2 linked regions of the Homo sapiens genome follow. The protein of the gene in region 1 interacts with the protein of each later gene in a biochemical or structural test. Each region holds a gene or a part of one and is shown in the gene's direction. Other genes may lie near its edges. The genes, in order: NUMBL and UBE3A.

Region 1 (3,824 bases):
TGCCATAGATCAGCCTGGGTGGGGTGGACAGGACCCCACTTCTCTGCCCAAAGCTGGACAAATGATCCCCAGCCAGTGAGCGGCCATGCCACAGCCCATTCAGACTGGGCCCATGTCCTTGCCATGCACGTGGTTGGGCATATTTTTAAACTAATATATGTTGCTAAGTGTTTTAGACAACTCTTCTGGTTTGTGGCCACACACAAATCTTGAGGTCCTTGGTTTGGGGTCCCTGTTACTGTCAGCCGTCAAATGTCACACACTAACTCAGTCGTTCTGCCGCTCAGATGTGACACACACATATGCACAGTTATTTGGCGGTCATGGCCACTTAGTTACTACAGTGGGAAAGGATCCAGGTCAGAAGAGAGGGCCACCGAGGGCGGGGGGTAGAGGGCGGGGCTGCGGCAGGGTCTGGGCCTGTTTGCTGACCTCTGTCCTGCCCTGCTTCCCAGTGCCTGAGATGGAGCCTCCTGGTGCCGGCGACAGTGACAGCATCAACGCTCTGTGCACACAGATCAGTTCATCTTTTGCCAGTGCTGGAGCGCCAGCACCAGGGCCACCACCTGCCACAACAGGTAAAGCCAGGCTTTCTGCTGGGCAGACACCCTGCATGTCCCTCCTGTATCCCCTCCTCTATCCAGGGCTACCCAGACACTCCAGGGGTCTTGGGATCCTACAGGCTTAGAACCATGGATCACCTCAGAGCCAGGGGATCATCCTACAACCATGGATCATCTTAGAGCCATGGGATTACCTGAGAATCATGCGATTACTTTAGAACCATGGATCATCTTAGAGCCAGGGGATCATCCTAGATCCATGGATCATCTTAGAGCCACGGGATTACCTGAGAATCATGCAATCACCTTAAAAGCAGGGATCATCTTAGAGCCAGGGGATCAGCCTAGAACCATGGGATTATCTGAGAATCGTGTGATCATCTTAGAGCCATGGATCATCTTAGAGCCAGGGGATCATCCTAGATCCGTGGTTCATCTTAGAGCCATGGGATTACCTAAGAATCATGTGATCACCTTAGACCCAGGGATCATCTTAGAGCCAGGGGATTATCCTAGAACCATGGATCATCTTAGAGCCATGGAATTATCTGAGAATCATGTGATCACCTTAGAGCCATGGATCATCTCAGAGCCCTTGATCATTTTAGAGCCACGGGATCCCCTTAGAACCATGGGATCATCCTAGAACTATGGATCATCTTAGAGCCATAGGATCACCTTAGAAACACAGATCATCTTAGAACCAGAGGATCATCCTAGAACCAAGGATCATCTTAGAGCCGTGGGATTACCTGAGAATCAAGTGATCACTTTAGAACCATGAATTATCTTAGAGATACGGGATCATTGTAGAGCCACGGGGTCACCTCAGAGGCATGTGCTCATGCTAGAATCTTGGGATCACCTTAGAGCCCAGAGATCGTTTCAGAACCATGGAATCCTTGAGAACCATGTATCATCTTAGAGCCATGGGCTTATCCTAGAACCACAGGTGCACCTTAGAATCTCAAACACTGTAAATGTAGAACTCGAGAATCTTAGAAAGCCCAACCCTAAACTGTCAAACCTTACTATGTTAGGATACTATTATACATGTGGAGAAAGATCCATGCAATCTTAGAATCTTAACTCCTAAAACAATACATTCTGAAGGTATTAGAAAATCAAGGGTGATATTCAAAATAGTGAATACCAGCTGGGTGTGGTGGCTCATGCCTGTAATCCTAGTACTTTGGGAAGCCGAGGCAGGGGGATTACTTGAGGTAGGAGTTCGAGTCCAGCCTGGGCAACATGTTGAAACCTCGCCTCTACTAAAAATACAAAAAATCAGCCGGGCGTAATGGTGCGCGCCTGTAATCCCAGCTACTCAGGAGACTGAGGCACGAGAATTGCTTGAACCTGGGAGGCAGAGGTTGCAGTGAGCCCAGATAGGGCATCCCTGGGCAACAGAGTGAGACTCTCAAAACGAACAGACAACAAACAAAACAAAATAGTGAATCCTAGGCTTGGCACTGACCAGTCAGAAGGGTAGTGGGGCTAGGAGGATGTCAGTCCTACTTAGACTTTCTCATCATAGGGCCTTAGAAGCTCAGAATTGTATGTTCTTAGCACTCCAGAACCATTACGTGGTCCAGAATGGTGAAGTCACTCGCCTGAAGTCAGCAAGCTCGGGAGGTGCAGAGCTGGGATTCAGAGGCAGGCGGTCTGGCTCCAGAGTCCGTGCTCTGATCCCCACACCATGCCAGTTCCCAGCCTGGGGTTCTTCTGCTGAAGCCGTTGCCCCCTCCCTCACCTGTCCCTCTCCTCTCTCCAGGGACTTCTGCCTGGGGTGAGCCCTCCGTGCCCCCTGCAGCTGCCTTCCAGCCTGGGCACAAGCGGACACCTTCAGAGGCTGAGCGATGGCTGGAGGAGGTGTCACAGGTGGCCAAGGCCCAGCAGCAGCAGCAGCAGCAACAGCAACAGCAGCAGCAGCAGCAGCAGCAACAGCAGCAAGCAGCCTCAGTGGCCCCAGTGCCCACCATGCCTCCTGCCCTGCAGCCTTTCCCCGCCCCCGTGGGGCCCTTTGACGCTGCACCTGCCCAAGTGGCCGTGTTCCTGCCACCCCCACACATGCAGCCCCCTTTTGTGCCCGCCTACCCGGGCTTGGGCTACCCACCGATGCCCCGGGTGCCCGTGGTGGGCATCACACCCTCACAGATGGTGGCAAACGCCTTCTGCTCAGCCGCCCAGCTCCAGCCTCAGCCTGCCACTCTGCTTGGGAAAGCTGGGGCCTTCCCGCCCCCTGCCATACCCAGTGCCCCTGGGAGCCAGGCCCGCCCTCGCCCCAATGGGGCCCCCTGGCCCCCTGAGCCAGCGCCTGCCCCAGCTCCAGAGTTGGACCCCTTTGAGGCCCAGTGGGCGGCATTAGAAGGCAAAGCCACTGTAGAGAAACCCTCCAACCCCTTTTCTGGCGACCTGCAAAAGACATTCGAGATTGAACTGTAGCCCGAGCCGCCCCACCCACTCCATCATCTCCAGGTGCCCCACGCCTGGGGGTGGAGGCACAACCTCTCCCCTAACCCTGCTCCCTGGGGCTGCGCCCCTCAACACCCTCTCAACACCCCCCTCCCTCAACCACCCCGACAACCACTACAGAACCAACATTGTGACGCCCAGGTTGCAACAGGATGGAATTCAGGGACGGACCCAGCCTGGCTAAGGGAACCATTTCACTGCCGGACTTAGGCTGGCAATGCCCCCTTCCCCAACCCCAGACACAGGGGTTGGCCACAATCCCACTGAATGCCCTTGGTTCACACTCCATTTCCCAGTTTCTGTTGACCCCCACCTTCCAGTGTTGGACAGGATGGAGGGGGGACACTTGCTTAGGGGCTCTCCTGGGCCCCACACCAGTGCCCACCCCAAATCTGGTCGTCTCCTCCCCCCATGCACAGCACAAGCTAAGGGCTGCCCTCTGCCCACACGCTGCGTTCACTGCCAATGCTGTACTCACCTCCATCACCCTCCAACTTTGGGGCCCATGTCTTCCTTGGGCCAAGGTCTCATGGGGGCTAGGGCCAAGTTGGGGGCCCAGGAGGCGGGGAGGGAGGAGGAGGAGAAGATGCGCAGTTACCTCATGTCGGTGCCCGCTGGGGAGGGGTCCGGGAAGAAGGGGAAGGGGTGCCTGGCGGGTACTTTTCTATCTTTTATTTCCAGATTTTTTTTGTATCTAAACTTGAAGATTTGTATTATACAAGGACAGCCAATAAAGGAAGAATATAATGGTGCCCCTCGGGAAACGAGGGTGTGTGTAGGGCGCTG
Region 2 (3,824 bases), on another chromosome or scaffold:
TTGCCATTTGTTCCTTTTCTTTCCTCCACAAGATAATTTTAGTGTATCTGTTTAAGAATATAAGAGTGGCCAGAAGACAGAAAGCAGTCGTCAGTCACATTTCACCAAAATTTACATTTGTCTCAGGTGCATTATCGCAGAGCTTTATTGTATTTCTAGTATTAGCTATCCCTGTCATTGCTGCTACTTTTTTATCATCTTCAAGTAAAATTTAATGTCAACAAAAATTAAGGTAGTTAATAATACTATAGTATACTAGTAAAGTTGTCTGACACAGACAACTAGGAAATGTGATTTTTACTTTAAAATGTATTTTAGTTTTAGAATGTCTAAATTTTAGTTTTAGAATTGTCTAAATTCGAGAATTCATAAAGCTGTAGCCCGGTGGAAAAAGTTATTTGACATCTCAGAAATTAAAAATTGCAGAGATTTTGTGTGTTTTTTTTTTTTTTGTTACTGGTTTGTTTTTTTTTTTTAATGTCAGATATGTTTATAGTGTTGGAGAAAGATTCTGCATTATTTAAGCAACTCAGGTGGTTTTCTAGCAGAGACAAAAGGGGGCTTTAACTGCCTGAAGTCATTATTATTGCTTGCTTTCTGGTACCCTTTTTATTTCACTTACATAGTTTTGAGACACATGAATAATTAATACACTTAATGACTGATCATAAGGCAGCCAGCACCTTACTTTACATAGTTTAGCAGAATGATAGGGTATTTTATAAGAATGTGAGTGATGTTTTATGAAAGGTATGTTGAGGTCTGTCTATGACTATCCATTGTTGGAGCAGAACTGCAAATGCCAAAGCTACATACTTTATGTTTGGCTTCTTGAGGTGAGATCCCTTCAGCTGTCTTCATCAAAAGCTATGTCTAGCCTTTAAAAGGCAATGAAATTACACTGTAAGAATCATTCCAGGGTTCAAAAAATTGTCTACCTTCCTTATCTGTCTTTCGCTCAGAAGTCTACTCAGTCTTATTTTCCTCAGTCCCCCATTTTTTTCTCTAGTAAAGCAAGACTAAAAACAAAAGTTTAAGTACTTGGTATATACTTTATTCTATATTTTAAATTCTATTCTAGAATTTTAAGGAAACAACTGCTTTTAAAGCCTTAGGTGTTAGTGTAAAATTAACTGTGAGCTCTTTAATTATGGTAACTTGTTTTTAGCAAGTTCTGCTTAATTATATCAAAATTAGATAATATAGTGTGGCCTATCATAAATCAGGATTCACTAGATAGTATATGTACTTGAATATTGCCAGCCCACAAAAGCAGTTCACTTCAGAAATCATGTGTGTTAGGCAGTTTAATAAACTGTGAAAATAGAAAGAGATGATGCTTACAGAGAAGCTTCCTTAGGGGCTCTGAATGCTCACACTAAGCAGATTTTACTCTTAACTTTCTTTCTCCCTTGCTTTTTCTTCCTTTTCTTTTTTTTAAAAAAATAACAGAATGTGAAAAGACTAGAAAAACCAGCATCGAAATAGGTCTTATAAGTAAAATTGATAACCTGTGTAATTTTTTGAAGTAAGTATTCACAGCAGGTGATGATTATGATAAAGCCACATATTTTAGTAACACATAGTAGAAGTTCTATAATAGAAAGTGGTTTAAGATTATTCTCTCATATGAAAGCTCAAAAGTGATGAATTTTTCAAGATCTTATTTCCCAAGGATCTCTGCTTTTTAAGCCTCATTCTTATATATCACAGTGAACAAACTAGTGGCCACTTTTTTATGACTTGCTAATTTTGGAATTGTATAGCAGGGTTGGGTGGAAAAGAAGAAATGAGAAACTTTGTGGTAAGCTTAATATTGATAAATAAAATTATGGGATCCTAGGCTTTAAGAGCTAAAAGAAACCTTAGAGTTATCCACTCCTTAGTTTAGAAATCAAGCCCAGAAAATAGTGACTTCATATATGAGACTCTTGTATGTTTTCTGTTGAGGAGTGGTAACTTGAATTAATAATTGTGGATTTTTTTAAAAAAGAAAAATATATTCATTGCTTTTATATATTGTGAAATTCAAACCAGACTAGCAGCTTTTTTCCTGAGGTTTTTAGAGAAATTGTCTTTGATGACAAGAGAAGAATTCATGTTGATAGTATTTTCACTAATCTCTGATTGTAGGAAACACTATCATTTTATTACTGCTAAGACAGAAAAATACCAGCAATTCATTGTAAGATGCTATCATTTGTATGGTGTAATCTGATTTCAGAGATAATGTGAAAAAAGTGAATTTTAGAATCAATAGAATATAAGTTGTCTCTTCACAAATACCTTAGAACTGCTTAAGAACACCCCCACCCTACCCGTTTAACTTACTGCCATAGTTCCCCTAGGACTTATTTTCAGTATTTTTTCGTTATTGTTCCTTAGAAAACAGTACAGTGATAAACATGAGCTTAGACTTCACCTTTCATTTGAATGACATTCCTAATGTGATGAGGTTTTTACAAATATGTAAAACCATATTTACAAATTTACATTTTTAATATAAATATGTAATTTAATTTAATATGTAAATTAATTTAATTTAAATATGTAAATATTTACATATTTACAAATATGCAAATATTTACATATTTACAAATATGTAAATATTTACATATTTACAAATATGTAAATATTTACATATTTACAAATATGTAAATATACCCATTTGTGTGTTCTTTTACAAGTAGATAATTTCTCATTTTTCTTAGATGAAGCACTTCCAATGATAGTATGTATTAAGATTTTTTAAATTACTTCTTAAAGGAGAAGATAGAGGTTATAAGTTTATGGAAGAATATAGTATTGCCATCATGAGGTCCCTCAAACTGCCTTCACATCTGAATGGGAAAATTGTTTAAAAAAAATAAATAAATAAATAAATAAAATCCAGGGCCCTAACCTCTAGAGGTTTAGATTAGAAGCTGTATTGTAGAGCCTATGAATCTGAACTTCTGGTAATACTCCACAAATATTTTGATAAAGCCAGACTCCAATATTTGGGAAGATGGCCTTTGGTTCAGCTCAGGTGGGGGTGTGTGTGCATGTGTGTTTATGTGTGTATGTGTGCATATATAGAGAGAAAGAGAAAGGCCATTTTGATATACAAGTATGTTTATGTGTTTTGGAAACTCAGATTTTTAAGAGGATCATGGGGACAGCAAGCTTGGAATAGAGGATGATGATGATGTGAAACTTGGTTCCAATTAGTCAGGGAGTTCTAGCATTTCACATAAATATCTAAAAACCAAAAGGAATGGCTGAGATGTGGAATTGAATAGGGAAGTTCAAAAATAGGAATTAGCACAGATAAAGGTGATTGGCACAGATAAAAAGCCCCACTACCAGGAGGTTCTGCAAAATCCCCTCTAAAAGTCACTGGCCCTTTTTATCTGGTTTCTAATAGCCTAGTCTAACCCAGCTTCCAGCATTTTCAGCTCCCAGCTTCCAGCATTGGTGAACACTCTTACTAGTGAAACATGAACGTAATTCTTTTATTTATTCATTGACTCACAGAGCTTTAAAAATGAGATTATTCTGTGCTGCACTAGGTATGTTTAATTTTGTCTTACACATACACTATATTGTGGTTAACATGTAATTTCCATTGTTCTTTCTTGTGATTTATTCTAATTGAAATCAAAAATGAAACCAAGAAATATGCTTGGTTTATGCCCTCAAAGTAATTTCTCAGAAACTGAATGAGAGAATGAAGCCTATATATACATAGATCCTCAGCATTATATAATAATTTAAGACAATGAAACATCAAACTTAGTATTACATGTGAGGAAAATGAAATCTAAAAGAGATTCCAGCCTACA

What was found.
Region 2: the proteins of NUMBL (region 1) and UBE3A form a complex in vitro, tested with the Homo sapiens proteins (one large-scale study listed by BioGRID).

The regions. Positions count from the first base shown.
Region 1 is NC_000019.10:40,666,652-40,670,475, reverse strand, and holds part of NUMBL (numb-like protein), read left to right. Parts: intron 1-455; coding exon 456-578; intron 579-2,337; coding exon 2,338-3,008; 3' UTR 3,009-3,824. UniProt on the Homo sapiens protein: Plays a role in the process of neurogenesis. Required throughout embryonic neurogenesis to maintain neural progenitor cells, also called radial glial cells (RGCs), by allowing their daughter cells to choose progenitor over neuronal cell fate.
Region 2 is NC_000015.10:25,366,003-25,369,826, reverse strand, and holds part of UBE3A (ubiquitin-protein ligase E3A), read left to right. Parts: intron 1-3,824. UniProt on the Homo sapiens protein: E3 ubiquitin-protein ligase which accepts ubiquitin from an E2 ubiquitin-conjugating enzyme in the form of a thioester and transfers it to its substrates.